2 separate regions of the Homo sapiens genome follow, and region 2 is reported to be linked to region 1. Evidence: microRNA targets listed by miRTarBase, many of them from high-throughput screens and not tested one by one. Region 1 holds a microRNA gene; the other region holds the end of a gene's coding sequence.

Region 1 (16,756 bases):
CAATAGTTACTTACCGTGTGTTAGTTATGGGCTGAACTGTGCTCCTCTCTCCCAAAATTCATATGGTGAAATTCTAAAGCCTAGTATTTCTGAAAGTAACCATATTGGGATGTTTTAAATAAGAATTCATTTAAAATGAGGCCCTCGGGGTGGGTCCTAATCCAAAAAAATGGTGTCCATATAAAATAAAATTTAGAAAGGGGTAAAAATCAGCTACATGTATGCACAGAAGTACAACTGTGTGAAGATAGAGCTGTGAGAAGGCAACCATCTATAAGCCAAGAAGAGAGGCCTAGAACAGATCCTTCCATCATGGTCCTCAGAGGAGCACTTTGACCTTGGATTTACAGCCTCTAGAACTGTGGGAAAATAAATATCGGTTGTTTAAGCCACCCAGTCTGTGTGTGTGTGCATGTGTTTAAGTGCCACCTTAGAAAACTAATATAATTGACAAAAGACATAATGGACTTTTTAAAGCCAGCACCCAACTACGTTAGCATCATTTTCAGATGTTTGTTTTAGTTTGTTTATTTTATTTTATCAAGTATTATAATGATAATTAAAAAAAAAAAGTTACATGAGGTGGTTCACACTTTTAATCCCAGCACTTTGGGAGGCAAAGGTGGGAGGATCACTTGAGGCTGGAAGTTCAAGACCAGCCAGAGCAACATAATGAAAGCCAATGTCTACAAATTTTTTTCTTTAATAAAAAATAAAGCTGGGTGTTTTTATAATAATGTGTTTTATTATAAAGCACACACCTGTAGTTCTAGCTACTTGGGAGCTGAGTTGGGAGGACTGCTTGAGCCCAGGAGATCAAGACTACAGTGAGCCATAATTGCACCACTGCACTCCACCCTGGGTGACAGAGTGAGACCCTGTCTGTAAAAAATAAATAAATAAATAAAAATAGATAAAAACAATTTCAAAACTTAAGACTAAAGAAACTCAGAAAACTGTCAATTACATTTTGCTCTGATTTTTCTCTTGTATATAGTATAATGAAATGTTACATCAACTTGCCATTTTTAAAAGTAAAAATCAGATGGATTTAGCTGGGCACAATACCAGTTGTATTGAGAATTTCTAATGTCACTCAGATGAAAGACTTGAAGGAAAGGAGATAGATTTAGAAGGAAAAGGAGACAGACTTAGCAGGAGAGATGGTTAATGAGATCAGTCATTCAAATAATCTACCTACTAGTAAAGTTAGACAAACAAACAAACGGCAACAACAACAACAAAACCCTACCCATCATCTTTAGAGAAAAATCATAGTCTCCCACTTGAAATAACACATTCGTCTGGAAGCTTAAATAAAAGAACACATATTTTCACACAGCACAAAAGAATTATTTTTATATTTGGAACACGATTGCTACAGAATTATGAAAAGAAAAAAATACAGACTGTAGAGAACAAAATAAGACAAGCTTCCATCAAGAAGGAAACATAAAATATACTAACTTGAAATAACAGATATACACAATATATGGAGTTCAAGTTTTTAGTGTTGACTCCAGCCGAGATATATCGGAGGCAAAGAAAGATTTGCAAAGGATTCATGAATTATCCAAAGTTAAACATGTTATATCTAACCAAGCCAGACCTAGAACACATTATTGGTCATATTCTTTCCATTGACTATGTCTAATTCCTCTTAAAGTTTTTTCCCTTTACATATAAATCCTACACACATTACCACTTTGGTAAGATAAACAGAACAAAACACTTATTTTTTCTTTCAGCACTTTGGATGTGCTATCCCATTGTGTTCTGACTACCATTGTTTCTGATGAAAAGTCAGGTGTTAATCATAAAGTCATTTCCTTGTATGGATGAGTTATTTTTCTTTTGCTTTCAAGATTAACTCCCTTCACATTTTGTTTAATCCAGAATTATTAGAAACTCTAAATTTGAGACTCAAAGTCACTCATCAGATCACCACAAAATTTCAAAACATACATACTTAGAATGTATATTCTTGTATATATCAATATATAAGAATATCAATATACTACTTTAATGTCTTCTTTTATTAATACAAAATCATTGGAATATTTGGGAAGGGAATATAAGTCAGAGCAAGAGCATCCTAGATTAGTGATTGCTACATATTAATCATTCAATCATTGTTTTTGTGTCAATGAAAGAATAAATTACTTCCAGTATTTTTGCTGACATATTTCTTTCCCTAGTTTCAAGATTCACAGAGAAATATACCTTAAATAATATACTTTGATTCTCTTGAAAACAATTTTCTATCTTTCTCCCCAATCTTTCTCAATATTTTTAATACAATATTTTTTGTTTCTATATCCATCAAAAAGTTTCAGTGTGATGAGATAGCATAAAAATCTATTTAGAGGATCAGTTTGGAAGTCAAGATGTGCAAAATGTTTCTTATCTGCTCTGTTCTCTTTTCATTATCTTCTCCCTGACCCAACCCCAAACATTGTAAAGAATGCTAAACCCTTTATAAAGAATTTTACCAGAATCGATATTAAAATTGAGTGTGCTATTTATTACTTAGAAGTAATTATCAAACTTTAACCTGTAATCTCATTTATTTACAGTGGAGCATAGTAGTTAGAAGAAACGTGACTCAATTAGAGGTCAATTACTCCTTAGCAATGTATCAGAGTTGGGCAAGTTACTCAACCTCTGCTAATAACAATCTCTTAATCTGTAAAAATAAATATATCCATGAAGTATTCCTAAGGTTAAATGAAATAACTTATATTAAAGTAAATCACTTGGTGTAATTTTGAATATACAATATGTTCTAGCTTGAATTACTACTACTAATGAAAAACTGAAGCTCAGATCAACAAAAAAATAGTGCCATTCTCCAACTTTTTCTAGGTAGTTTGCTAGAAATAAGAGAGCAAAATAGATTAGGGCCCAGTTTCTGGATTTAAGGATCAGAAATCATCTGCTGTGTTTATTATGAACCTTTTGTATCCCTTCAGTTCTTCCTGTAAATTTTTACAAAGAACTTACTGAATAAACAGTTAAAACACCTCAAATTAACAAAATCTTCTCTACTATATCTCCATTATTTCAAAAAAGAAAAGAGAATCCTTTCCCCGTTCCTTCTTTTTGTCAGGTTTGTCAAATATCAGATAGTTGTAGATATGCAGCATTATTTTTGAGGGCTCTGTTCTGTTCCATTGGTCTATATCTCTGTTGTGGTACCAGTACCATGCTGTTTTGGTTACTGTAGCCTTGTAGTATAGTTTGAAGTCAGGTAGCATGATGCCTCCAGCTTTGTTCATTTGGCTTAGGATTGACTTGGCAATGTGGGCTCTTTTTTGGTTCCATATGAACTTTAAAGTAGTTTTTTCCAATTCTGTGAAGAGAGTCATTGGTAGCTTGATGGGGATGGCATTGAATCTATAAATTACCTTGGGCAGTATGGCCATTTTCACCATATTGATTCTTCCTACCCATGAGCATGGAATGTTCTTTAATTTGCTTGTATCCTCTTTTATTTCATTGAGCAGTGGTTTGTAGTTCTCCTTGAAGAGGTTCTTCACATCCCTTGTAAGTTGGATTCCTAGGTATTTTATTCTCTTTGAAGCAATTGTGAATGGGAGTTCACTCATGATTTGGCACTCTGTTTGTCTGTTATTGGTATATAAGAGTGCTTGTGATTTTTGCACATTGATTTTGTATCCTGAGACTTTGCTGAAGTTCCTTATCAGCTTAAGGAGATTTAGGGCTGAGATGATGGGGTTTTCTAGATATACAATCATGTCATCTGCAAACAGGGACAATTTGACTTCCTCTTTTCCTAATTGAATGCCCTTTATTCCCTTTTCCTGTCTGATTGCCCTGGCCAGAATTTCCAACACTATGTTGAATAGGAGTGGTGAGAGAGGGCATCCTTGTCTTGTGCCAGTTTTCAAAGGGAATGCTTCCAGTTTTTGTCCATTCAGTATGATATTGGCTATGAGTTTGTCATAGATAGCTCTTATTATTTTGAGATACGTCCCATCAATACCTAATTTATTGAGAGTTTTTAGCATGAAGCATTGTTGAAGTTTGTCAATGGCCTTTTCTGCATCTATTGAGATAATCATGTGGTTTTTGTCATTGGTTCTGTTTATATACTGGATTACGTTTATTGATTTTCGTATGTTGAACCAGCCTTGCATCCCAGGGATGAAGCCCACTTGATCATGGAGGATAAGTTTTTGATGTGTTGCTGGATTCGGTTTGCCAGTATTTTGTTGGGGATTTTTGCATCAATGTTCATCAAGGATATTGGTCTAAAATTCTCTTTTTTTTTGTTGTGTCTCTGCCACGCTTTGGTATCAGGATGATGCTGGCCTCATAAAATGAGTTAGGGAGGATTCCCTCTTTTTCTATTGATTGGAATAGTTTCAGAAGGAATGGTACCAGCTCCTCCTTGTACCTCTGGTAGAATTCGGCTGTGAATCCATCTGGTCCTGGACTTTTTTTGGTTGGTAAGCTATTAATTATTGCCTCAATTTCAGAGCCTGTTATTGGTCTATTCAGAGATTCAACTTCTTCCTGGTTTAGTCTTGGGAGAGTGTATGTGTCGAGGAATTTATCCATTTCTTCTAGATTTTCTAGTTTATTTGCTGACAAAAAGAAGAAATGGGGAAAGGATTCCCTATTTAATAAATGGTGCTGGGAAAACTGGCTAGCCATATGTAGAAAGCTGAAACTGGATCCCTTCCTTACACCTTATACAAAAATTAATTCAAGATGGATTAAAGACTTACATGTTAGACCTAAAACCATAAAAACCCTAGAAGAAAACCTAGGCAATACCATTCAGGACATAGGCATGGGCAAGGACTTCATGTCTAAAACACCAAAAGCAATGGCAACAAAAGCCAAAATTGGCAAATGGGATCTAATTAAACTAAAGAGCTTCTGCACAGCAAAAGAAACTACCATCAGAGTGAACAGGCAACCTACAGAATGGGAGAAAATTTTTGCAACCTACTCATCTGACAAAGGGCTAATATCCAGAATCTACAATGAACTCAAACAAATTTACAAGAAAAAAAAACCCATCAAAAAGTGGGTGAAGGATATGAACAGACACTTCTCAAAAGAAGACATTTATGCAACCAAAAAGCACGTGAAAAAATGCTCATCATCACTGGCCATCAGAGAAATGCAAATCAAAACCACAATGAGATACCATCTCACACCAGTTAGAATGGCAATCATTAAAAAGTCAGGAAACAACAGGTGCTGGAGAGGATGTGGAGAAATAGGAACACTTTTACACTGTTGGTGGGACTGTAAACTACTTCAACCATTGTGGAAGTCAGTGTGGCGATTCCTCAGGGATCTAGAACTGGAAATACCATTTAACCCAGCCATCCCATTACTGGGTATATACCCAAAGGATTATAAATCATGCTGCTATAAAGACACATGCACACATATGTTTATTGTGGCACTATTCACAATAGCAAAGATTTGGAACCAACCCAAATGTCCACCAATGATAGACTGGATTAAGAAAATGTGGCACATATACACCATGGAATACTATGCAGCCATACAAAATGATGAATTCATGTCCTTTGTAGGGACATGGATGAAGCTGGAAACCATCATTCTCAGCAAGCTATCGCAAGCACAAAAAAACCAAGCACTGCATGTTCTCACTCATAGGTGGGAATTGAACAATGAGAACACATGGACACAGGAACGGGAACATCACACACTGGGGACTATTGTGGGGTGGGTGGAGGGGGGAGGGATAGCATTAGGAGATATACCTAATGCTAAATGATGAGTTAATGGGTGCAGCACACCAACATGGCACATGTATACATTTGTAACAAACGTGCACGTTGTGTACATGTACCCTAAAACTTAAAGTACAATAAAAAAAAGAAACCCCCCCAATAAAAAACAAGAAAATAATAATAATTTTGTCAATGATAGTTAACTATATGTTAGTCACTAACACTATGGCAGTTACCTTCAAATTCATATTTCTAATATTTCCAATATCTTCATATTTATATATCTAATTCATATTTGAACCCAGCTCTAATTTAGGAAGTTCTCTTTTTTCTTTTAGAAATTAAGGCATAAAGTGTCACGTGACTTGCACAAGATTGCACCACTAGTAAACTTAAAAATATAGTTTACTTGCCTACTGTCTCAATGTTTTAGTGATTTATTGATCATGCACAATTATTTTTGAAAACAGAAATTCATTTAGCATACCACATTTCAAGATCCATTGGTAGAAGCCACTTTATTAGCTTAATCAACAAAAATGTCTAGAAAATTTGAGCTTTTATTAACTGATAACATATTAGAAGTTACATATATATATATATACATATATATATATATATATATACATATATATATATATAATGAAACAACCCCTATAATCTTTATAAAATTATTTGGGAGAGGAGGGAGCAGATGAAACAAAAATAAGCTTCCAGCACATCCAGCCTTAAACGTTAAGTTAACTTGCTGTCTGTCCTGCTTCCTCATAATTGTTCACTAGGTATGGCCCCACAATCATTTATATCCTGTCACAAGATTATAGTTAAACTTAACTACTCATAGATAACAACTTGAGCATTGTAAAATGTTAAGTTTTCTCTTTGAGGTATTCTTTCAGATCCTACATACCAGTGAAACTACTGACATCAGCTGCTCCGAAGGGCTCCAGGAGAAGCCGACTCACTAAAGGGCAAAGTTTCTACATCCTGGTGATTTAATCCCCCTTAACCAAACCAGTCAGTGACCCCAATTTTCCAGCCCCTGGTCCTCTACAATCCCTTCACCCCAGCCAAGTACTCTCTGGAAAGACAGATTCGAGGGTGCTCGCATCTCCTCACTCAGCTGCCCTGCAATCATTAAACTCTTTCTCTACTGCAAACTCTGTTTATCAATTTATCAGACTGTGACTGCACAACAGGCATACAAACATGTGAGTCCTGTATCATTTATAAATATTTAACTTTTATGTATATTTAACTGCTATACCATAATTGACTAGTTTGTATGTTAATATTAGTAGGTAATAATAATATTTATATTTCCTCCATAGGTAGCTTCTGGGGGCATTTCTGCCTGGTAAATTTTATTCTTTAATGACAAATACTAAAGTAAGTAACTTTAAAATATTATTGAGAATTTTTTTTCTATTGATGGGACACTGAATTTGTAGGTGGAAATAAAAACCTAGCTTTTTACTAAACTTAATTTTTTATTTAAACACAACTCAAAATGTAAATATAAAATTAAGAATTTCCAAAATTAAACTTAGTTTTAGGAACTCACATAAGCAAGTGTAATACTGAAGAGCAAAGAAACTGTGCTCTATAAAAAAAAATTACAAGTAATTCTTGAAATCTAAGGGCTAATTTGTGAAGTAAATTTGGAAGCTACTTTATGCTGTAGCTCCATCCTAGAGACCGAGAGAACTGCACTAGGAAAACCTGTTCAACCTTTTTTTAACCAGAAATTCTTTCTTTCTCCAGAAATCCTTTTCAGGTAATGCCTAATGATATCTCATTGAACATGTATTAGAAATTGTAGTTTAATTTTTAATTAAATAATTCAGTGAAAATATATTAATTGTAAAGATAAATTTTAACACATATGGGAATACTAGACTTACGGTGGTCATCAACCCAAAATGCTACAAAATTACATAGAATGGTTAGTTTGGCAAAAAATAAATATCACCACTAGCACCAAAAACCTAGGTTTCAAAAAGAAATAAAAGAAGCATTCCAAAATGTTAAAAATTTTTCATTTATCTACTTTCTAAATGTTCTTTGAAACACTTCTTATGTCATCATAATTTTGAAGTTTAAAAGTAAAGAAATAGTTATTCTAGTTAATATACTACCTTAAAGTTACTCTGGCTCACAAACAGAACAAAGCAAAGCATGACTTGACAGCAGTCGAATTACGGGAAATTGAAGCTAAACGAAATTGGATACCTCACCTCATCTAAACTCCTTACTTTATAAGAAGGAAAAGCATCACAAAATGTTGAGGCCATTTAACTTAAAGTCATCAGGTGAGTTAGAGATAATTTGAGACCACTGCTTTTTTTCTCTTTGTTACTATTCTCTTATGAAGTTTTGCCTGAAAACAGGTCTACTAAAAATATAAGAATTTGTAATGAAGATGAACATATATCATTGCCTTTCTGCTTAGGATTGTTCAATATTTTCCCATTGATAATATATAAAATCCTACCTACTTTGACCTCCTCTCCCACCATTTCTTTGCTCTCTATCTCCTAGAACTTCATTCTTGACTCCAAAGCTGCACCCTCCTGCATCAGTTTCTTTTGTTTGAAATCTTCAGCTCTTCATAAATTTCATCCAGCAAACTCCTATTTATCCTTTAACTCCCTATTATTTTTTCTTACAGTGCCACATTTTCCTTCATTAGCACATATCCAATTTAAAGTTACATAGTTTGAGTTTTTGCTTGACTTTCTGTTTCTGCACTAAAGCATAAGCTCCACAAAAGCAAGTATCATGTCTGATTTAACAGGGTATATTCTATTCTTTTTTTTCCACAAGGCGGTGCCCGGTTCGGTCCCAGACGCGGCCACCAACCGACGTAAAGCCGGTGAGCCGCTCGGGGAGGAGAGAGGATCGGCGGGCGGCGGGCGGGGAAGGGGGCGCAGACAGGCAAGGGCCGGGGACCGCGAGGGCAAGGGCACCTGGGAGCCCGCAGAGGGGCGGCTGAGGGAGAAACCTCAGGCATGGCCGGGCCACCAGGAAAACACGGCCGCGGGATCCCACCGCCACAGACACGAGGGCGGTCCCGCGGCGCCCCGCCTGGGACGCCGGAAGGCCCTCGGCACCCACCAAGACCTGCCTCACGAGCCCCTGGTCCCGCCACCGGGGCCCCGAAGCGACCACAGCCACAAACTCAACGCCAGGGCCACATCGCTCGTGATTCTCGTCCATCCTCCGACCCGGTCCCGCTCCGGGAGACCGGCGCGCCCCCACCGTGGGACGCTTTCCCAGGGCCAGGCGGCCCGACCACGTGCCACGCAAACGCCGTCGTCCGCACCGGTCGCGACTCGGCAAGGGAGCGGGCGGAGAGCTGACTCGCGGCGGAGGGGGGTCACTCGCCGGACGGAACGCTGCGCGCAGCCATCGCTCGCTGTCAGCCGCGTCCCAACCCGCTAGGACGCTGGGCCCTGCCGGCGGGATCCTCCCCTTACTCGGAAAGGGGAGGCGCCGGCCACAGTAGGCGACGAGCCGCGCTCGGCCACCACCGCGGTGGCCGGCGGAACCCTCGCTCTCCCCCCGTCACCCCGTCGAGGGGGAAGCTGAGGAGGGTTCCTCTGCAAGCGAGTCGCTACTGCAGCGCTACCATAACGGAGAGAGAGACAGAGGCGGCAGGCCGGGGGATCCCGTACCCCAAGGCACACCTCTTGGATCGCTAGAGAAGGCTTTCTCACCGAGGATGGGTCACACTCCCCACCCGCCAGCCGCCCCTCGTGGGGCCCGAGGGGCCCGCAGAGGCGCTCAGGGAGGCCTGGGGAAGGGAGGGGGCCTGTGGTACCAGGAAAAACCTGCGTGCGGCAACCTTGAGCGTTCGCGGTCAGGGCGGGGACCGGCAGGTGCGAGCGTGAGCGCAACTCCACAAGCCCCCGCCTCCCACCCCCCCCCCCACCCCGTCCACCCGCCTCTTTTCTTCAGAGGCAAAGCACCTCCGAGTAAACCCACACACGACCGGTCGGAGGCAGAACGGTAGCCCCTCGGCGGCCGGCCGGCGCACGCGTCACCAGCCCAAGCCCACCGCGATCGCTCACAGGGCCCGTGCGCACCCGCCAGAGGGGAGCACCGGACGTGCGCTCGCCGGACCAGGCGGGCGCCCTTCCCCGCGTGGGAGGGGCGCGTCTCGTCTCACTCAACCGCCTCGAACCCCACACCGACGAGCTCCCTCAGGACCCACGCGCGGACACCGAGGCGCCGACCGGAGGAGGGGGCGCTGGGGGTGGGAACGACACACCACCGCTCGGCCTCGGGAACCTGAGGGACAACCCGGAGCGCTCCAGGAGCACCGCAAAGGCCCAGGGGGAGCCAACGCTCGCGCAAACTCCCCGGGAGGGCAGCACGACGGGCCGGCGGGACAGCACCCCCACCGCTGCGGAGGGGGGCCGCCCGCAAGTCGACAACCACAGGAGGCGAGAGCGAGGGGTGCCTGCCGCGTCAGAGGACCCCCCGACCCACCCCGCGAGGCAGAAGGCGGGGGCGGGACAGCGAGGTCAGGCCGGGTTCCGCACCCCATGCCTTCCCAACGCACCACCCGCAGGCGAGGAAGAGGAGAGACAAGGGGCCCCCGCGGGCGGGACGAGAAGAAGGGTCCCATTCGCCACGAATGTCCGCCCCTCGCCCGTCGCGGCTCGGACACGGCCAGGGAGAGCATGACATCACCATATTCTATTCTTACAAGAGTGCTGCCACGTAAGTGTCAATGAATGTTTGTGAAATAAATGAGGGACTAAAGGAGTGATCGAACAAATAAAAATAAGTTATCTGTGTGTATTGTATGTGTGAATAAGATTTTGAGTTTGGCCAAGGCAGTTAATCACATATTAACAACTCTTTAGATACATAAGGTTTATAGCAATGAGGTACAAAATTGGTTCAACACCAAATTCTAAGATGAAACAAGGTTTATGTTCAGAAATATAGTGTTACTTTTTCTAATATCATTTGCCCTCCAACTATCAGCATGACACATGCAAACCATTGATACGTGTTTTTTTTTTTTGTATTGAAGATTCCACATGAAGAAAAATTATTATATTTCCAATAGGAAGTCCTCTTCTAAATGACAACAAATCTGAGGGTGAACACATTTGTTAAAAAGAGAGAGATTAAAAAGTTAAGATGCTGTTTGTACAGTATATAACTGAACAAAGTTGTATCTAGCAATTTGACAAGAAAGGTAAAACAGAATATTAACCTCAGCACACAAGTTTAGCTAATGATCTGGAACGGGGAGTTGTGAGTAGAGAGGAGGACAAAGATGAAAGACAACCATTTATCCCAAGTTTCTTTCCAAAGATGAAAAATAAAAAACCCTCTTAGTAATGTTTTTTAAATTCTAACTACTTTCAAGAACACATCAATAAGATATAGAGAGATAACAATCAAGTTGGACATTAACTTAAAAGTCAGATGACTTTTTAAGCATAAGTAACTTAGAACTGTAAAGTAAAAAACACTAAATGTCAATGACTTTAAAGTGGATACTGAAGTAAAAAAAAAACCTTCTATTAAAAACTAGACTATATGCAGTAACTTATGTAGAAAGCTTAGCATAAATATTTATACAAAATTGCCCTACCATATTTTATTAAAATATTACATTATAAATTAAGAGAAAATAATTTTAAAAATGAGTTATATTTTAGGCAATTTTTCTCAAAATGAGTTTCATAAATTGATATGGTTATTAGCATAGTAATTTCAATAATAGGAACAAAGAAACCAAATGAAAACCTAATGTGTGTATGTGTGTGTGTGTGTGTTTTGTGTGTGTGTGTGTGTGTGTATACAATTACCTGGAATTCCAACTTCAATATGTTTAAAAATACTTCAGTGAAAAACATTAGATTTCTTTTAAGGTAGTTTGTAAGATATTTATTAGGTTTATTTGTAGGCCTTGCACACTAAGTTAAGCAACACTATCATAAAATAAATTATTTAATAATGAAACAGAAACTCAAAGCTTCATATTATAATTAAATAAACTCTAAAGTATCTAATAACTTCAACTGTATGCCCTTAAATAACATCAGGACTACAATGTCTATCAACTTGCCCACAGAAAAAGCAACAATGAAAGAAAGAAAGAGATATCTATTTTGTCATAAAAGATCAACACACTTTGTCCAACTGTTGGTCCAACTGCTATAAAGTGGGCCAATGCTAATGGCAAATAAAGGAGCTGCCATTCAACATGCATTCTAGTAGTGAATATTAACTGACTACTACGTGAAGGCAGTGTTCATTGAACAAATAAAAGAACCCTTGCCTGCATGACGCTTATATTTTGGTCGCTTTACATTTTACTGGAGGAAACGTGAAGAATAGAATACCAGCAATATTAGCAACAACATTATCCCACTAGAAGGGCTCCAGTGATTGATATTTCCAGACTCATCTCAGTGACCCTATATGATCTTTATATTCCAAGGAACATGGCAATGGATTTTAACATTTCCAAATTAAAAGGTAATGGTAAAGTAATGATAATCAACATAAAAAATGACTCCCTGGAAACGAAAGCAACTCATTTCAAATGGCTTTGGAATGCCATTAGGACAGCACCTTTTTATTTGTAATGCATAAGTCTCACAATCCAGAGAGCAGGTCTTGTGAATTTTGATGAGAGGTAAGGCATTACAGAAAGACACAAAAGTCACGCTCCAGATCCCAGCAATATAGCTAGTAGGACGGACACAGAGTACATAGTTGTACTACTGATCACAGTGACTTAGAGATTGGAACCTATAGTTCTGTGAGATTAGGCATCATTTCAAGATAAAATTTACATTTTTAATAAATGCAGACTTTGGCTCAGCTAAACAAGGTACCTTGGGCTATATTCTTTCCTGTAGATAGATAAATTTGACGTAATTCACCCTTGTGCAGTCTAAACATACCATGTGCCAACAGTGATGTAAGTCACTGAATATGTGAGATAAAGTATGATGAATTCTATTGACAAATACAGGCAATGGCTTCCATTTAATTGAGAAGAAACCACATACCTAGCACAAGTCATTTTCTGTGCATTAACTTTTCATAATACAACTATATGAAGTTATAGCCTATTTTATATATAAGCATTTCCAAAGGTTAAGAAAGGGCACAGTGAGAGTGAGAAGCACAGTCTGGGTCGGTAGGACAATCTAGTTGTCTATCTGTGCTTTAAACTCCTATAAACATATCTCCCATACCACAGCATCTAACTCAGAGTCACATTCGAATTGCCAGCAAATGGAAGCCTCATAAACCCAAAAGGTGAACGGCAGTGAAGTGTATAGAGCACACTTTGAGTGCACAGAGTATCTTTGCAGACAGTATCTTTTAAGACTTTCACAATCACATCATGAGATTATTCCCATACCAAAAAGTAGGAAATGAAAGCCTGGAAACAAGTTATATCGACATTAAACTGCTCTCAAACCCAAGTGTACAAATGATTTTTCTTGCAAAGAAATTTATATCCTACACAAAGTTCTATTTCAAAATGAATTCTGGAATTCAATTAAACACTCATCTTGAAAACAAGAGTTTAAGTGGAAATTCCTCACTGGTATTCAAGCAAATAAATTAAATAATGATATTAAACCTACATCTAATCTCTTATCATACATATTGAAAGTTTGCTATATAGCTACCACTAAGTTATACATTTCCAGTGACACAAACCATGAAATGAATTTCTTTCTATTGGTACTAGCAAAAAACAAACAAACTACATAGACGGCAAAAAGGTCAATCTACTAATTTATCTTCTAATAACTTTCCACCCAGGCGCATTCATCCCTCTTATTAGACGGTTGTTCTATGCTTCTTTAATTTTTTGACATTCTAATTGCCTCACCTGAACCAAAAAAAGAATGTGGATCTAGGATCAATACCTTTTGAAAAGTCATTTATTTCATTATATTAATTTTTCATATATCTGCATTATTGCATAGAATACCCGATTGGTCTTATGCTAAGTTTTTCATGTAACATTACCTCTGCAAGATGTTAATAAGTATCCTTCCAAAAATGTTTGAAAAATCTTGGGTAAAACATATTAAGTAAGTTCCTGTTTTATAGTTTTCCAAGAGTTTTACTATCCTTGGCCAATGATGAAATTCAAAGCAGAGATATAGTACACAACTTTTGTAAAATTTACCTATTTTTCTTGTAAGACTGTGGCTTTGTTTCATTTTGTTTTGTTTTGAACTTCTTTTCTGTGATGTGACATAAGACTGTGTTTTGAGTTAGGGGTGGGGACATGCATTAACAGAGGTTTAGGAACTGCTTTGTTAAAGCAAGTTTGAGGGGGAAATGGGGAGACTAATACAAGATTTTCATTGAAGCAGTGGGAGTTGAAGGGGTAGGTGGTTTTTGGAGAAAGAAGAGACCCATTCACCGCACAGGCTTCTTTATATTTCTGCTCTGTGTGATACATAGTGAAGATAGAGACATTCACTTCTTCTATTTCCCACCCCTGGCCGGGGGTAACACAAAGGGACCTGATGAAGACACAGCCTTATACCTGTATCAAGTGTCCTTGAGAGTGGTAGGACTGGAGAGGCCTGAGAAATAAAAACATACATGCATTAAAAGGAACAAATAAAGAGAAGAAGAAAACTCAGACATGGTAAATTAACTTTGTACCTTTCCTTACAACCTAGCATATCAGAGGGTACATGATTTCCTTTTGACCTGCTTCCTTTATGCTGACTGCATGAACAGGGAAGGGGGTTGGGGTACACGTGGGTGATAATTGTATTTATTATATACCTGGTATTAATACATCTATAGAGACAATTGGAATGACCATACTGGGGAAACAGCAAGGGAAGAACTGAAAAAGCTAAAATAAATACTTGGTTCTATAAAAAATACTACAAAAAGATTTCTCATGTCTGACAAATTACATTTTAGTCTAATAGCAATAAGTAGACCGAAGCTAAGGTGATTTGATAAATATCATAAGGTATTTTATTGGGAAATTGATATCTATATGTATTGCTTGTAAAGCTCAGTAATCTGTTCTTGAATTGAGAAATTACGGAGACAACATCAAAAGCTGTCATTTTTGTTTCTATGTTGTTGTTGTTATTGTTTGTGAGGTGAGAGCTTCTAAACTTTATGACTGTTTGAAAGGGACCTATATAGGCCTTGCCTGAATATTAAGTCATGTGAAATGATAAACAGCTTTCTGATTTATTGGGTTAAAGAAAAAATTGAGAAATTGAGCATCATTAAAATTAAAGACTTTTGTTATTCAAACTGTGCTTAGAATGAAAAGAAAAGCCACAGGTTGGGAGAAAATCTTTTCAAAACACATACCAGATAAATTAGTGGTATTTAAAGTATACAAAGAACTCGAAAATAAGAAAGAAAACAACTCATTTAAAAAATAGGCCAAAGGTCTAAATACAGCTGTCAAATACAGATATTGAAAAGTTACTAGTCATATATCATTAGGGAACTGCAAGTCACGACAACAGTGAGATATTATTACATGACTATTAAAATGGCCAATATCCAAAAGTCTGATAATATGAAATGCTGGCAAATGTGAGGAGAAACAGGAACTTTTATTCATTGCTGGTGAGAATGCAGAATGGTACAGCTACTTTGGGAGTCAGTTTGGCAGTTTCTTACAAAACTTAAACATACTATTACCACACAACCCAGCAATTACATTCCCTGGTATTTACTTAAAGGATTTGAAAACTTACATGCACACAAAAACCTTCTTCCCATGAATGTTATAGGAGACTTATTCATGACCACTAAAATCGAAATGTCCTTCAGGAAGTGAATGGAAAAATAAACTGTGGTATATCCAGGCAATGGAATATTATTCTATCAAGCCACAGAAGACACACAGGAACCTTTAAATGCATATTGCCGAGTGAAAGAAGCCAGTCTGAAAGTCTACATACCGTGTGATTCAACTACATGACCTTCTGGAGAAAGCAAAACTATGGAGACAGTAAAGAGATCAGTGGCTATGAGGGATTTGGAGGAGATTTGCGCAGTCTAAACATACCATGTGCCAACAATGATGTAAAGCACTGAATATGTGAGACAAAGTATGATGAATTCTATTGACAAATACAGGCAATGGCTTCCATTTAATTGAGAAGAAACCATATACCTAGCACAAGTCTTTTTCTGTGCATTAACTTTTCATAATACAACTATATGAAGTTATAGCCTATTTTATATATAAATAAAAGCATTTCCAAAGATTAAGAAAGGGCACAGTGAGAGTGAGAAGCACAGTCTGGGTAGGTAGGACAATCTAGTTGTCTATCTGTGCTTTAAACTCCTATAAACATCACCTCAATCTACTAATTTATCTTCTAGATAAAATAGTAGAGGAAGTGATGAATGGATGGAGCAAGGAAGAATTTTAGGAAAGTGAATCCATTATTCTGTGTGACACTGTAGTGAGGATTATTTGTCATTACACATTTGACAAAACCTACAGAATTCATAAGGAGTAAACTCTAATATAAACTACAGACTTTGGTCAGTAATAATGTACCAATATTGACTCATCAACTATAACAAATGTACCACACTATTGCAAGATGTTAAAAGTGAGGGAAATTGGGGTAGAGGCTGAGGAAGACATGTGAATGCTTATTCACTTCTTTTTGCAAACCTAAAATTGCTTTTAAAAAGTCAATTAATAAAAATTAAAACAAGGCAGGGTTTTCATGCAATGGAAAAAAACACACAATTTTAGTAAGTGACTGATAATTATGCTTATGCCACTTTGCTAGATTACATTTCATTAATAAATATAGTTTCATTCTTTATGTTATAAAGCAGAATAAAATCAGATATCTAGAGAAATTGATTAGAGTAAAAGCATTTTCACCTCTCAAGTCAGAATGAGCTCTTTAGAATCAGCCCATTTTATAGCTAAATCAATCATTGTTTGATTTAAAAAAAAATTGAGAAAAACATTAACTTCACTTTTTCCACGAAAC
Region 2 (13,858 bases), not on the chromosome of region 1:
CTGTTTTCTTGGCAGTTCCTATAGAAGAGCAGCGTGGGGACTACGACCTGAATGCTGTGCGGCTCTGCTTCCAGGTGACAGTGCGGGACCCATCAGGCAGGCCCCTCCGCCTGCCGCCTGTCCTTTCTCATCCCATCTTTGACAATCGTGAGTAGCGAGGGAGACGCAGGAAGGGGAGAGGGTGGGCCTGAATAGGAGGAAGGGGGTTGGGGTGAGTGTGGCCTGCAAGAGGCGCTCTGGCTTCATTCAATCATCTTGCGTATTTGTCTACTCTTCTCTGCCCAGCTCTTTGTTGGCTGGGGAGAGAGGGCAAAGAAGACCCAGAGCTGTCCTTGAGGTGTAGCTCTGGCCTGGCAGGAAGTCTAGCAGAGAGTCTGATGGGAGATGGGCATTTTCAGTATTGTGTGATGAGAAGGTGGTGTGCCCACAACTGCGATAATGACTCTAGGAAATGAACTCCCAGGAACAAGATAGTGTTCGAGAATGATGATTCAGTGATGGAAGCCCACAGATGAATTGGGCTGACTGATCAGCTGCAGTCTTTAGTTAAGTAACCAGCAGGATGAATGGAAATAAAACGAATCTGGAGCCCCAAGGATGGGAAACCAGGATAAACTGGGGGTCAGGAGGGAAGGGCTCATTGCCAAGGTGGGTATGGACTGGCCTTAAAGATTGCTTTGGTCAGGTGGAGAAAGAGTGTGATCAGATTGGCACCCACTGGACTATAAGCTCCGGGAGAGCAGAGAGGTTTGGGTTTTGTGTGTGGTCGTATTCTTGCTTAGATCAGTGTTGAGTGCACAGTAGGCAAATACTTGTTGAATCGGTTGGGGTGAGGAGCTAATAAGAAGGTCTGACTTTGGCTACAAAGGTGTAGGTGGCAAGCTCTGGGCAACCTTGACTCTGGGCTGGGCAGGGAAGTTGCATCTCCTGCAGGCCACCCTGGGGACCTCTCGTGGCTCAGGTCATCCTCCCTTGTTTTCACTGCCTCAGGTGCCCCCAACACTGCCGAGCTCAAGATCTGCCGAGTGAACCGAAACTCTGGCAGCTGCCTCGGTGGGGATGAGATCTTCCTACTGTGTGACAAGGTGCAGAAAGGTATACATCAGGAGGCAGGGGTGGGCTCTTGGGAGCAAGGGGTGAAGCTGAGCAGAGAAGTGGAGTGTCAGGTAACTGGCTTTGGATACTTCCTCCTGTGCCTCGGGGGCCTCAGGTGGGCCGAAGGGTGATGTATCAGAAGACAAGCATCAGAAGTTGAGGGGGAGACCATGGAGGGTTAGACACACTGACCCACACTGCCACCGCATCTCCTGCAGAGGACATTGAGGTGTATTTCACGGGACCAGGCTGGGAGGCCCGAGGCTCCTTTTCGCAAGCTGATGTGCACCGACAAGTGGCCATTGTGTTCCGGACCCCTCCCTACGCAGACCCCAGCCTGCAGGCTCCTGTGCGTGTCTCCATGCAGCTGCGGCGGCCTTCCGACCGGGAGCTCAGTGAGCCCATGGAATTCCAGTACCTGCCAGATACAGGTACACAGCTGGGGTGGCAGCATCAGGGCAGCTGGGCTCTGTGCCGTGAGAGAGAGGCCAAGACTGCATGTCTGGGGCTGTGGTTGAGGGCCAGAAGCTGGAGTCAGAGCTTGGGATCCAAGAAACTGGAATCCATTTCTTGCCTCATTTAATAATAATGATACCTCAGACATTGAGCTAGTACTACACATCTGCCCCTATTCCAGGCACTTCACTGGATTACCTGATTTTAATCTCATGACCCTTTTGAAGTAGGAGATAGTGTCCAACTTGCCTGGGTTCACGTGGCTAGTAAGTAGCAGAGTCTAGCAGAGTCAGCGTTGGAACCCAGGCCATCTGGCTTCAGGATCCTTTTGCCACACTGGTTGTCTTGTCACTACCATACAGCCCAGCCACATTTTGGTCGAGGTTTGAGTGTCCACTTGGTACCAGGGCCTGTGCCAGGTATTGTGAATACAAAAAATGAGTAAGACATGCTCCCTGCCCTTCAGAGTCTCAGTCACTTGAGGAAGACAAATGTGCAAAACAGATCCTTAAGTCACGGAATGACATGTGAAATGGAGGTGTGCGCAGAGAAGCACGGGGGCACAGTGGCCTCCGGGGAGCTGGAGACAGCTGCATGGAGAAGGTGGCATTGAAGCTGGAGAAAGACACAGAAGTGTGTTCTCCAGGCAGGTGGCCCAGCACCTGGAAGGGAAGGGGTGTTGGCAACTGCACGGCCTATTCAGGGCCACCTTCGTGGTTTGAGCTGATGTTGGGCAGTGAGCAGGCTCAGAGATTGGAGGGCCTGGTTAAGCTGAAGGCCTCTAAGCAGAGAGGTGACAGGAGCAGATTTGGAAGTTGACTCAGGAGGCCACGTGTAGAAGATCAGAGACAGACAGACTCAAAGCAGGGAGGCCATTCTGGAAATGTTGCTGTAGTCCAGGAAGAGAAGATGCGGCACAAACCTTACAGAAGGAATAGCAGAGCAAGATCACATCTCCACCACTGTCCTCAGTTACCCTTCAGCCCTGCAGCCGTTTTGCGTCTTACAGACCAAGCTCAGTCTCACCTCAGGACCTGTGTCTAGCTGTTGCCTCTGCTTGGAATGCCCAAGGTTTTAATGCAAGTGGCTCATGCCAGTCCTTCCCTGACCTCTAAATTAGCCCTTCCCTCTACATTTAGACTGTCCTGACCTCACTTCCAGTATTGTTACATCACCATATCGTCCCTGGACCACCGTCACTTGAGATTTTCTGGTTTGGTTTTGTTTGTTTGTTTGAGACAGAGTCTCACTCTTGTCGCCCAGGCTGGAGTGCAGTGGTGCAATCTCGGCTCACTGCAACCTCCACCTCCCGGGTTCAAGTGATTCTCCCTGCCTCAGCCTCCCGAGTAGCTGGGACTACAGGCGCCCGCCACCACATCCGGCTAATTTTTTGTATTTTTAGTAGAGACGGGGTTTTCACCATGTTGGCCAGGGTGGTCTCGATCTCTTGACCTCGTGATCCACCCGCCTCGACCTCCCAAAGTGCTGGGATTACAGGCGTGAGCCACCACGCCTGGCCGAGATTTTCTGGTTTGTATATATGATTGTGTCCCTCTCACTTTTTCACTAGGATGCCAACTTTTTGGGAGCAGACACCTTGTGTGCATACTCACGGCCACATCCCCAGTGTCTAGAAGGGAGGCTGGCACATAGTAGGTGCTTGATAAATATATGTCAAGTTACTGGCGGGGAGTGAGAGAAAAGAAGATAATCATTCCAAGGTTTCTAGCTTTGGTGACAGGGCAGATGGCGGATGGTCAGGGAATGCAGGAGAAAGAACCTAGTTTTTGAGGGATGATGAGGTTGTCTTTGAATTGATGGAATTGAAGTGCTTTGGAGCTACTGAAATACCACTGTAATTAGAAAGACAGTTCTGAAAGCTCTGACTAAAATATGAAACCATTAGAGATAAGAATAAGAGTCTCTGCTGAAGTCTTAAGGCAGTTGTGCCTCAGCTGCCCCAGAGTGCCAAGAAATTCTCGCCAGGCCTGGGTGGAGGCTGACAATGAGCCAGGATGTGAGCAGTGCAGGAAGGTGTGAGCTGGAGGCTGGGGCCCCCCAGGTCTCCTCTTTGCCCAGAGCATGGCCCCTGTACTCGGCCTCACCATGTGGTCTTAGAGGGGCAGATTCAGCCAACAGAGGCCTCCAAAAGCTGTGGGATTCTCAGAACTGCTGAGTGTCACACATCCCTTCTCATTGGCAGAGAAGGTTGGGAGAATGGGTCTTGGGAAAGCCTGGCTCCTCCCCTTCCTCCTGAGGGACCTTTGAGAGCGTCGGGGACCCACCTGAGGAGAGCAAGTCCCACTTCTCCCCCTTACTTTCCCAGACGATCGTCACCGGATTGAGGAGAAACGTAAAAGGACATATGAGACCTTCAAGAGCATCATGAAGAAGAGTCCTTTCAGCGGTGAGATGGGGACTGGGAAAGCCAGAGAGGAAGGCAGCGGGCAGGGAGGGGACACCCTGGGGCTGAGAACTGACCTAGCCCTTGCCCTACAGGACCCACCGACCCCCGGCCTCCACCTCGACGCATTGCTGTGCCTTCCCGCAGCTCAGCTTCTGTCCCCAAGCCAGGTAAGGATTTCCTTTTGTCCCACTGGAACGACAGGTTCAGCTCTGTTCAGCTGAGGAGCAGTGGAGATGAAGACTCCTGGGCCCCATTACAGACCTACTGAATCAGAGGCTTTGAAAGGATGGCGCAGGAACCAGCGACTTCCTGGGATGCTAATGCACACTGAAGCCTGGGAACCACCGTGCCACTTAAATTCTATATTGGGTATCTTGGGAATCAGAAGTTAAAAATGCAGAATCTCTGCTCTCATCTCTCACTTGAATTGGGGGAACAAAAATCACCTCTAAATTAGCAAGATGTGTGTGCCTGTGCGAGGCTCAAAAACTGACAAGCTCTGCACTTCAGGCCGCTGCTCACTTGGTGCTCCATGGGCTCATTGCCTCTCAGGACTTAGTTTTTCAGCTGTAAACTGAGGAGTCCAGCTTATCTCTCCAAGTGTCCCTTCCTCTAAAAGGCTGGAAGAGTTTCGTGGGCTTGAGTAGTCAGGGAGGACTCCAAGGTGGAGGTGTGGCTAGAACTGGACCCTACAGGCTGGGTCAGATGGGGTAAGAGGAAGGAGATAGGGTGTTGGCAGTGACTCCCTAGAGAGGGATTGAGCCTGAGCACCATGAAGAGGGGCTGGGGTACAGAGGACGGGGTGGATCTCTAGGGCTTTCTCTGACCCCTGCCTCTCTGTCTCTCTCCTCCAGCACCCCAGCCCTATCCCTTTACGTCATCCCTGAGCACCATCAACTATGATGAGTTTCCCACCATGGTGTTTCCTTCTGGGCAGATCAGCCAGGCCTCGGCCTTGGCCCCGGCCCCTCCCCAAGTCCTGCCCCAGGCTCCAGCCCCTGCCCCTGCTCCAGCCATGGTATCAGCTCTGGCCCAGGCCCCAGCCCCTGTCCCAGTCCTAGCCCCAGGCCCTCCTCAGGCTGTGGCCCCACCTGCCCCCAAGCCCACCCAGGCTGGGGAAGGAACGCTGTCAGAGGCCCTGCTGCAGCTGCAGTTTGATGATGAAGACCTGGGGGCCTTGCTTGGCAACAGCACAGACCCAGCTGTGTTCACAGACCTGGCATCCGTCGACAACTCCGAGTTTCAGCAGCTGCTGAACCAGGGCATACCTGTGGCCCCCCACACAACTGAGCCCATGCTGATGGAGTACCCTGAGGCTATAACTCGCCTAGTGACAGGGGCCCAGAGGCCCCCCGACCCAGCTCCTGCTCCACTGGGGGCCCCGGGGCTCCCCAATGGCCTCCTTTCAGGAGATGAAGACTTCTCCTCCATTGCGGACATGGACTTCTCAGCCCTGCTGAGTCAGATCAGCTCCTAAGGGGGTGACGCCTGCCCTCCCCAGAGCACTGGGTTGCAGGGGATTGAAGCCCTCCAAAAGCACTTACGGATTCTGGTGGGGTGTGTTCCAACTGCCCCCAACTTTGTGGATGTCTTCCTTGGAGGGGGGAGCCATATTTTATTCTTTTATTGTCAGTATCTGTATCTCTCTCTCTTTTTGGAGGTGCTTAAGCAGAAGCATTAACTTCTCTGGAAAGGGGGGAGCTGGGGAAACTCAAACTTTTCCCCTGTCCTGATGGTCAGCTCCCTTCTCTGTAGGGAACTCTGGGGTCCCCCATCCCCATCCTCCAGCTTCTGGTACTCTCCTAGAGACAGAAGCAGGCTGGAGGTAAGGCCTTTGAGCCCACAAAGCCTTATCAAGTGTCTTCCATCATGGATTCATTACAGCTTAATCAAAATAACGCCCCAGATACCAGCCCCTGTATGGCACTGGCATTGTCCCTGTGCCTAACACCAGCGTTTGAGGGGCTGGCCTTCCTGCCCTACAGAGGTCTCTGCCGGCTCTTTCCTTGCTCAACCATGGCTGAAGGAAACCAGTGCAACAGCACTGGCTCTCTCCAGGATCCAGAAGGGGTTTGGTCTGGGACTTCCTTGCTCTCCCTCTTCTCAAGTGCCTTAATAGTAGGGTAAGTTGTTAAGAGTGGGGGAGAGCAGGCTGGCAGCTCTCCAGTCAGGAGGCATAGTTTTTACTGAACAATCAAAGCACTTGGACTCTTGCTCTTTCTACTCTGAACTAATAAATCTGTTGCCAAGCTGGCTAGAGATCCGCTTTTTTTCAGCAAACACTGAGCACACATTTTGCTAGTCACATCAGGCCAGACATTGGTGGTAGAGAGCTGGGTGAATGCGTGCACTGTCCTCTGAGAGCTTGCAGTCTGAGAATGCCCTTGGAAACCCCGAGTTACCGTCCAGTGGATGAAAACGGGCAGCTAAGGCAAGAGTCCTAGCACACTGAGAGCCTAGTAGAGCCCGCTGGCTGTGGGGATGGAGCAGTTTCAGGAGTCTTCCAAGAGGCCCCATTAGCTCCAGGTCTTAGATCAGCTGAGAGTGGATGTCAAAGAGGGACTAGCCAGCGTCAGAGGTAAGAGAAACGATGTTCGAAAGATGTGATGGGGCCAAATTCCTTGGGTGGCCCAGGGAGTGTGTGCTTCTCTTGGGGAATGTGTGGTGCCAGGTAAAGATCTACCCGGCCCACCGATGCTTTGATACTCTGTTCTGGGAGGAACGGTGAAATCTTCAATCCACAGCCTCAGGAAGCCAAAACAAAGGCCCAGCCGCAGCCCACAAGGGCTACAGCTGGACGTACTTCCGCTTTGCCCCAGCGCAAGCGCAGCAGCAAAAAGCGCTGGCCGGCGTGGGCCCCCTTCTCGACTGCGCAGGCGCACAAGGAGCCCGCAGCAACCGGAGGCCGGGTCCAGCGTCTGGGGAAAATCCCCGCCGAGGCCGATGGCGTCTTCGTTTGGGCTTCGCACCGTCGCGGGAGGACAATAGCAGGGGAAAAGGAGTTATCGTCAGCGGGACGCGTCCCAAAATTCAGCGAGTCTCCTAGGAACAGAAAAGGCCCTGGGTGCAGGCTCCGACGGGCGGCGCCGGCGAGACGGCAGGCCAATTCCGTCGAGGAAGTGGCGTTTTCCACGGGGCTCCGGCTCCGGGGGGGCGGCCAGGGGCGGGGCTTGGAGCGAGGGCGGGCCTCGGCGGAACTCCCACGCGAGGGGCGGAGCCCGGGCTCGCGGTGGCCAGGTCAGGACCCGGGCGAAGCTGCCGGGGAGCGCCTGGGAGGCGGGGTCGGGGAGGAAGCGGGCGGGGTGAGAAGGCTCCTAACGCTGAGGAAGCCGACGGCTGAGCTGCGCAGGGACCCCGACCGGAGGTCCGCGACCCGAGGCCCAGAGGGAAACCAGGGAGCCAAGGCCCTGCAGCCCAGGCTGCGCCTCCCTCCTCTTGGCTTTCTCGGTCCCGCGACCTCCCGTGACCCACGAAGACCTCTCCTGGTTCTTCTCTCATTCGTGAATGACCCCATCATGCTCATGGCTCAGCAGCTCCAAGTCCTCGTATCCAACCCAGATCTCTCTCCCCTGCGCACCAGCCCCTGGACATCTCCACTCTGACGTCCTCGGGCCTCTCAAACTCATCCTGTTCCAAATGACCTCAGCCATCCCCAGCCTGCCTCTCCTTTTCCCTGTCAGCCCTGGCCCTGCCACCTTCCAAGGGCTCCAGCCGGAAACCTGGCCACTACCGTAGATGCCGCCTCTTCCCTTAGTAACTTGCGTCCAGTCCTTCCACGAGGTCCTGGAAAATCTGCCCACTTCTCCCCACTGTCACTGCTATCACTGAGTTTAAGTCACCACTAGACCTCCCACTGGACTGCGGCTACAGCCGCCTCCCTGCAGCCAAAGAGCTCTGACATCCAGATCTCACCCCATCAATCTCCCTTCAAACATCAACCACAAGACCAGATCCGAGTTTTCTGCAGACACACCCTCAGTGACCACAGCCTTCCACACTAGTCCACAACCAGGAAAAAGTGGCAGTCTTGGGAACTGCTAACCCAGGATCCCTAGTGCACCTTCACAACCCTTTCTGATCTGGCTTCTTTGACGCTGGGTTCCTGGGTGTGCCTTGGCTCTAGTCCAGCAGGCCTCAGCCAGACTGGTCCTACCAGGATACCTCTGACGTCTCTGCCTGGTGAACTCCTACCCAGCCTTCAAAACTCAGCCCTCATATTACCTCCTCCATGAAGCCTTCCTGATCCTCAGATGCTCTGTTTCTCCGAGCCTAGCTCATCCTGCCAGCACCTAAGTTAACAGACCCAGGGCCTAGGTCTCACCATGGAGCTTCAGCCAGCCTAGGGAAGGGACTGGAATAGGCATGAGATGCTGGGCAAGTCTGCCCTATCTGGGCCTCAGGTCCAGAAACCAAAGGATTTAGACAAAGTCCCAAGTTTGGACTTGATGATGCCACTTCGGGGAAAGGCCTGGCCTCGCGAGGAACAGAGAGGACCATAGGCTGGTGAGGAGGGAAGTGGGTCAAGGGCCCGTTTCCTCCAGGACATAGAAACAGCCCCAGTCAACTGAGGCGGAGATGCCACCGCCTCTGGAATTGGGCCCTGCAAGAAGTGGCCAGGTGGGTAGAGAGAGGACAAGGCCTGGGGGCTCAGTGGCTTCAGAGAGAAGAGTGAGGCCTGCACTGAGGCACAGGGCCTTGTGATGCACGGCCAGGGTAGCTGTGGGGTGTGGCCACCTGCTTCCCTGCAGAACCAAATAAACGTTATGGGAGAGAAGCCAAGCAGTGGCCTGGCCTCAGGGACCCCTCAGTGAGTGCCAGCCCATCTCTGAGCCAGTGTTCCCAGGGCCTGTCCTGACTGGTCCGAGGAGTTTGGCTGGGGCCTCTGGAGGCAAAACCCCTTGCCCTGCCCTGTCTTGGACACATGTTCAGACACAGACATCAGTGGCTTTTTTACTCCCTGAAGTCCTCTTTTCTCCACAGAATATTTACAAACAGGGAAGGGGTGGAGGCCACTTCCGCCACCAAATAAGGGGCTAGGGAGGGGGGCAGTGCTAAGACACGCCTCTGCGCAGGGAGAGTTCCTGAGGAGGGCCCAGTGTGACCACAGTGCCCTCAGGGGCCCAGGTGGTTCCAGACGGCTCAGGCCAGGTCGGCGGTGGGTGAGCCCAGCTGCTTGGAGGCCAGGAGGAGGCGTGTGGCTGCACTCTCAGACTCCGCCTGCAGCCGCCGGTTGTTGTGTCTCAGGCTCCGCACCTCCTCCTCCAGGGCCGCCCTGTCCGCCTTCTCCTGGGGTGCCGGGGAGACAGGAGTCAGAGCCGCCAGCCCCTTTCCTGGGGCAGCCCTGTGACTCCCCCCAAGCTCAGCCCACCCCTCACCTTCTGCAGGTCCTCCTGCAGCTTCCTGAGCATGGACTCCAAGTGAGAGACCTTCTCTGAGAGGTTCCCAGGCTCTGGCCTGAAGACATGGGGGTCAAGACTCAGCAGGACCAAGGCAGGGGGCAGTGCACCAGCTGACTCCCAGCCCCAGCTAATGAGAGGGGCCCCGCTGGTCTTCTAGGCATATGTGGCAGCAGAGCCCAGGACAGAGCTCCACCCCAGCAGACAGGCACGAAGGGGGGGTCATGTGGGCAGGTAAAGCGGCTGTGGGGAGTTGGGGAGCTTACTCAGCATCAGATTTTGGAGTTCCCTTAGGGTCTCCACTCTCTGGGATGGGCTGTCCTGTGGGGACAAAGGGATCAGGTGGGCAGGTCAGAAAGGGGGCAAGAGCACTGCCCAGGCTTACCGCAGCACCCTGGTGGCCTCACCCTCTCGGGACAGCGACTCCAGAATGGTGTTGCAAGTAGAGGCAATCTCCGAGATGGCCTGCCACTCGTCCTCCAGGGTCCCACTGCCCGCCTCCGACATGACTGTGGGCACAAGGAGCAGGCTGAGCTAGGGAAGCCCAGGAGCACCCCCCAACCCCTCCCCTGCTCTCCTGGGTCCAGACTCACTCCTGCTGATGGAGTTCCGCAGAGACAAGGTACGTGGCAGAAAGGAGGCCCTCAGCTCCGGCGCCGGGTTGCCCTTGTCCTCAGAGCCACTGGGACTGCCTGGCCTGTCCTGTGCCACAGAAGTGGATACAGATTCAGTGATGCCCACTGTCACCACTGTGCTGTTGGGCTCCAGAGCCTGGTTTCTGCTCACCTGGGTCAGGGGTGTCTCACTGTCAGCACTGGGTACTGATGGCTTGGCTGTGGTGGCCAGGAGGAGGTCCGGGGTGGTGTTGGGCAGGACTGGGGCCTCATCCGACAGAGAGCTGGGGAGAGCAGGGGTGGCTCAGAAAGGGAAGCCGCTTTCCCAGAGGCCTGGAGGAGAGGGAAGGCCAAGAGTGTGCACCTGCGTGGTGACAGCGAGTTCTGGCTGTGCAGGAACTCAGTCCTCTCCTCGGCCAGATCCCCAGGCCCTGGAGGACTGCCACCATCTTGCAGGCACAGGTGCAGCAGCTGCTTTGTGGTGGGCAGCAGGGTCACCCCCTGGACCTCATCCTGCACAGGATCTGGGGCCCCCCGCCGGCTAGGCTCCTGCAGCGACAGCGTGTACAGCTCCGAAAAACTCCTGTGGGGTGGGACAGGGTCAGGCAGGACTTCTCCAGTCCCCAGCGTCCTGCATCACTAGCCCCACCCCCAGCCCGCCAGGCTCACTTCCAGGAGCAGGAGAGCTCCCCGGCATCCTGACAACAGTGAAAAATGTCTGCCTGGTTACTGGCCATTTTTCCAGACCATGGTTCAAATTCCAGTGCTGCCCCTGTATATCCCAAGCAAATCACTCTGAACATCAATTTCTCCATCTGTGAAATGGGGATAATAGTACGAACCTCATAGTGTGCTGTGAGGATTTAAATAACACGTGTAAATTGCTTAAATCCCAAAACTACTGTCTGTAGCCAAATCCAGCCTGTGCCTTTTCCTTTTCTTTTCTAAAGCAGATGTGCCAGTTTCTGTACTGCGAGCTAAGCATGGATTTTACTTTTTTTTTTTTTTGAGATGGAGTTTTGCTCTTGTTGCCCAGGCTGGAGTGCAATGGCGCGATCACAGCTCATGGCAACCTCCTCCACCTCCTGGGTTCAAGTGATTTTCCTGCCTCAGCCTCCCAAGTAGCTGGGATTACAGATGCCTGCCATCACACCTGGCTAATTTTTGTATTTTTACTAGAGACGGGTTTCAGCATGTTGGCCAGGCTGGTCTCGAACTCCTGACCTCAGGTGAGCTACCCGCCTCAGCCTCCCAAAGTGCTGGGATTACAAGCATGAGCCACCGCGCCCGGTCCGGATTTTACATTTTTAACTAGTGGAAAAATCAAAAGAATATTTCATGATAAGTTAAAATCATGTAAAATCCAAATTTCAGTGTCTATAAAGTTTTAGCGAGACACAGGCACATTTATTTATTCATTTACCTACGACAGAGTAGCTGCGGCAGAGACCAGATGGTCCAGAAAGCCTAAAATATTTATTATTTGGCCATTTACAGAAAATGTTTGCCTACCCCTGGCTTAGCACAGGAAGTTATCAATAGTGTGTAGTGTGTGTGTTGGGTGGGCGGGTGCCAATACTTAAAAAAAAAGATAGTGGGGGCTGCTATTTGATCTTTTAAGCAGTGGGAGCAACGCGCTTAACTGGTCCCATTCTACATATGAAGATAGAGGTTCAGGGCGCGGTGACTCACGCCTGTAATCCCAGAACTTTGGGAGGGCGAGGCAGGTGGATCACCTGAGGTCAGGAGTTCGAGACCAGCCTGGCCAACTTGGTGAAACCCCATCTCTACTAAAAATAGAAAAAATTAACCGGCCGTGGTGGTGCATGCCTGTAATCCCAGCTACAAGGGAGGCTGAGGCAGGAGAACTGCTTGAACCTGGGAGGCGGATGTTGCAGTAAGCCGAAATCACGCCATTGCACTCCAGCCCGGGCAACAAGAGGGATACTTCGTCTCAAAAAAAAAAAAAAGAGAGAGGAGAGAGAGAGGAAGGAAGGACAGAGAAAGAGAGAGAGACAGAGACAGGAAGAGACAGGCTCAGACGGGCTAAGAGACGGGAGATTCTTTCCAGAAGGAAAGGTATCCACACTGGGTTCCTGAAACTGCTGATGGCGACCCGGGAGGCGCAGACTGCGCGGTGGCCAACTGCCGGCCCTCCCACCTCCCCGCGTCCCCGGCACCCTGACCTGCGGGGCCGGCCGCTCTCGTCGGGGGGCAGGACGGTGACGCAGACCTTGGGCGCCGAGCGCAGGAGCTGGGCAGCGGCCTCGGGCCGGAGGCTGGGCAGAGTCTGGCCGCACACGCGCAGGAGGCGCGCCCCGGGCCGCAGCCCCGCCGTCTCGGCGAATGTGAAGCGCTCCACGTGCGTGACGAATCCCTCGGCGTCCACCTCGAAGCCCAGGCGGCCTTGACCGTCGCGGGGCAGCGCCAGCTCGCGGGTCTCGCAGCCACGGCTCACCAGCTGCGGACGGGGCGGGACGAGTGGGCGGGGCTGCCGGGAGGTGGGGCCGCCCCAGCGCCCGCCCCCTGGACTGCGTCCCAGGCCACACGGAACTTTCCACAGTCCCCGAGGGCCGCGTGTGCCACCGCCCGAGGGATGAAGACCAGAAGTCGCTTACCCGAGGGCACCAGTTCCGGCCTTGCCAAGCCCCGGGGCTGGCTCTGCCCTCCTCGACTTTCCCTTCCGCAGGAGTAGGGGACAAAGGCGGCGGGAGGGAGGGGTCCAAAGCAGGCTCCGCCCCGCCGCGCGCAGGGGCCCCAGTTTACCACTCCAGCTCACCTGCAGGCGCGCCACCACCTCGCCCACGGCTTGGCCGGGGGACCCGTCGAAGCGCAGCGTGATCGCCTCCCCGCGGCCGTGGTACAGGTCCAGCTGCTGCTCGGAGAAGGTCCAGGCCAGCACGTCGCGACAGGCGCAATTGAACACTACGCGGCCGTCGCGCGGCGCCACCAGCACCAGAGCCTCGGCCGAGATGCCCAGCAGGCAGGGCACCTCGATGCCTTCGGGGCCGCTCGCCTGAGCCCCGGCGGCGACCCGCGCCCCGGGCGCCGCGCGCACTCCCCACACCAGTGAGCCCGCTGCCTGCAGCTCGGCGCCTGGGCCCCGAGGGGCCGCCCGGCGCCTCCCACCCAGGGAGGGCAGGCCGAAGCGTGAAGCCGAGTCCAGCGACGTAGTGGTCACCTCGTTGGTGGCCAGGTCTTGCAGGTACTGCTGGCGGGTGCGCGTGGCCATGGCGTGGAACTGGCGCGCGTGGCCGGCCGCCTGCTCACCATTCAGCGCTTTGGCCAGCAGGAAGGCCCGGAAGTCGGCGTTGGCTGCGAAGGGGCCTCCGCCAGCAGGCAGAGCTGGCCCGAAGGCAGGGGTGTCCTGGGTGCGGCTCACGGCCACCCTGCGGGGAGGGAGGCGTTAGTGAGGGGCGGCAGGACTCCATGCCCACGGGAGACCTGGGACCACTCCGGTGCCCACCTGTAGGTGGTGTGTGGCGTGCAGGGTGTGTGTGCCCGCACCACTAGGAACACGTGCTGGAAGTGCGAGCGGATGGTGGTGGGGCAGAAGGGCTTGCTGCCAGGCTCCTGGAACACGATGGTCACAATGTCGTTGCCAATGTGGCGCTTCCGGAGGAGCTAGGGGTTGGATAGTAGGGGCTCGTGATGAGGTCTTCTGTGCCCCAAACCCCTCCTCATTCAGGCAGGAGAAAGCCAAGGCACCAATGGCTCCCCCACTGCCCCTGGTGAAGACCTAGGGTGTTTCTGTCTTTGGGAAGGGGCCACCAGAGGGGCGGGCTGTTGGGGCCAACAGAGCTCCGGCCAAAGCTCAAACGTCATGGGCCATGCAGGGCCCTCCATGGTTCCCGGAAGCCCCACCCCCACGTTGGTCCCCCTCACACCTG

The links. Region 1 holds the annotated microRNA hsa-miR-663a (AGGCGGGGCGCCGCGGGACCGC, at 8,809-8,830, opposite strand). A microRNA usually pairs through its seed, bases 2 to 8, with sites in the 3' UTR of a target mRNA and lowers its output. Matches are read on the target gene's strand: a 7mer-m8 pairs with bases 2 to 8, a 7mer-A1 pairs with bases 2 to 7 and ends in A, and an 8mer does both.
Region 2: the mRNA of SIPA1 is a reported target of hsa-miR-663a. The part of its 3' UTR that is shown has no 7-base or 8-base seed match.

Annotation. Positions count from the first base shown.
Region 1 is chr20:26,199,435-26,216,190 of GRCh38, forward strand. MIR663A (microRNA 663a) reads right to left here and starts at 8,844; the gene lies at 8,752-8,844. It overlaps MIR663AHG (MIR663A host gene), which reads right to left and starts at 9,799. Exons shown (of 5, transcript NR_040095.1): 1 at 9,689-9,799; 2 at 15-89. RefSeq lists enhancers at 8,317-8,818, 9,702-10,262.
Region 2 is chr11:65,645,955-65,659,812 of GRCh38, reverse strand. It overlaps SIPA1 (signal-induced proliferation-associated 1), which reads right to left. Exons shown (of 16, transcript NM_006747.4): 6 at 13,856-13,858; 7 at 13,435-13,592; 8 at 12,748-13,357; 9 at 12,155-12,429; 10 at 10,333-10,551; 11 at 10,141-10,252; 12 at 9,948-10,056; 13 at 9,762-9,863; 14 at 9,621-9,675; 15 at 9,334-9,412; 16 at 8,901-9,244. The coding sequence ends at 9,098. RELA (RELA proto-oncogene, NF-kB subunit) reads left to right here. Exons shown (of 11, transcript NM_021975.4): 6 at 16-147; 7 at 991-1,095; 8 at 1,314-1,526; 9 at 3,878-3,958; 10 at 4,051-4,125; 11 at 4,813-6,212. The coding sequence ends at 5,435. It overlaps MIR4489 (microRNA 4489), which reads right to left and starts at 10,621; the gene lies at 10,560-10,621. RefSeq lists enhancers at 5,232-5,732, 6,473-6,522, 6,533-7,012 and a silencer at 7,073-7,312.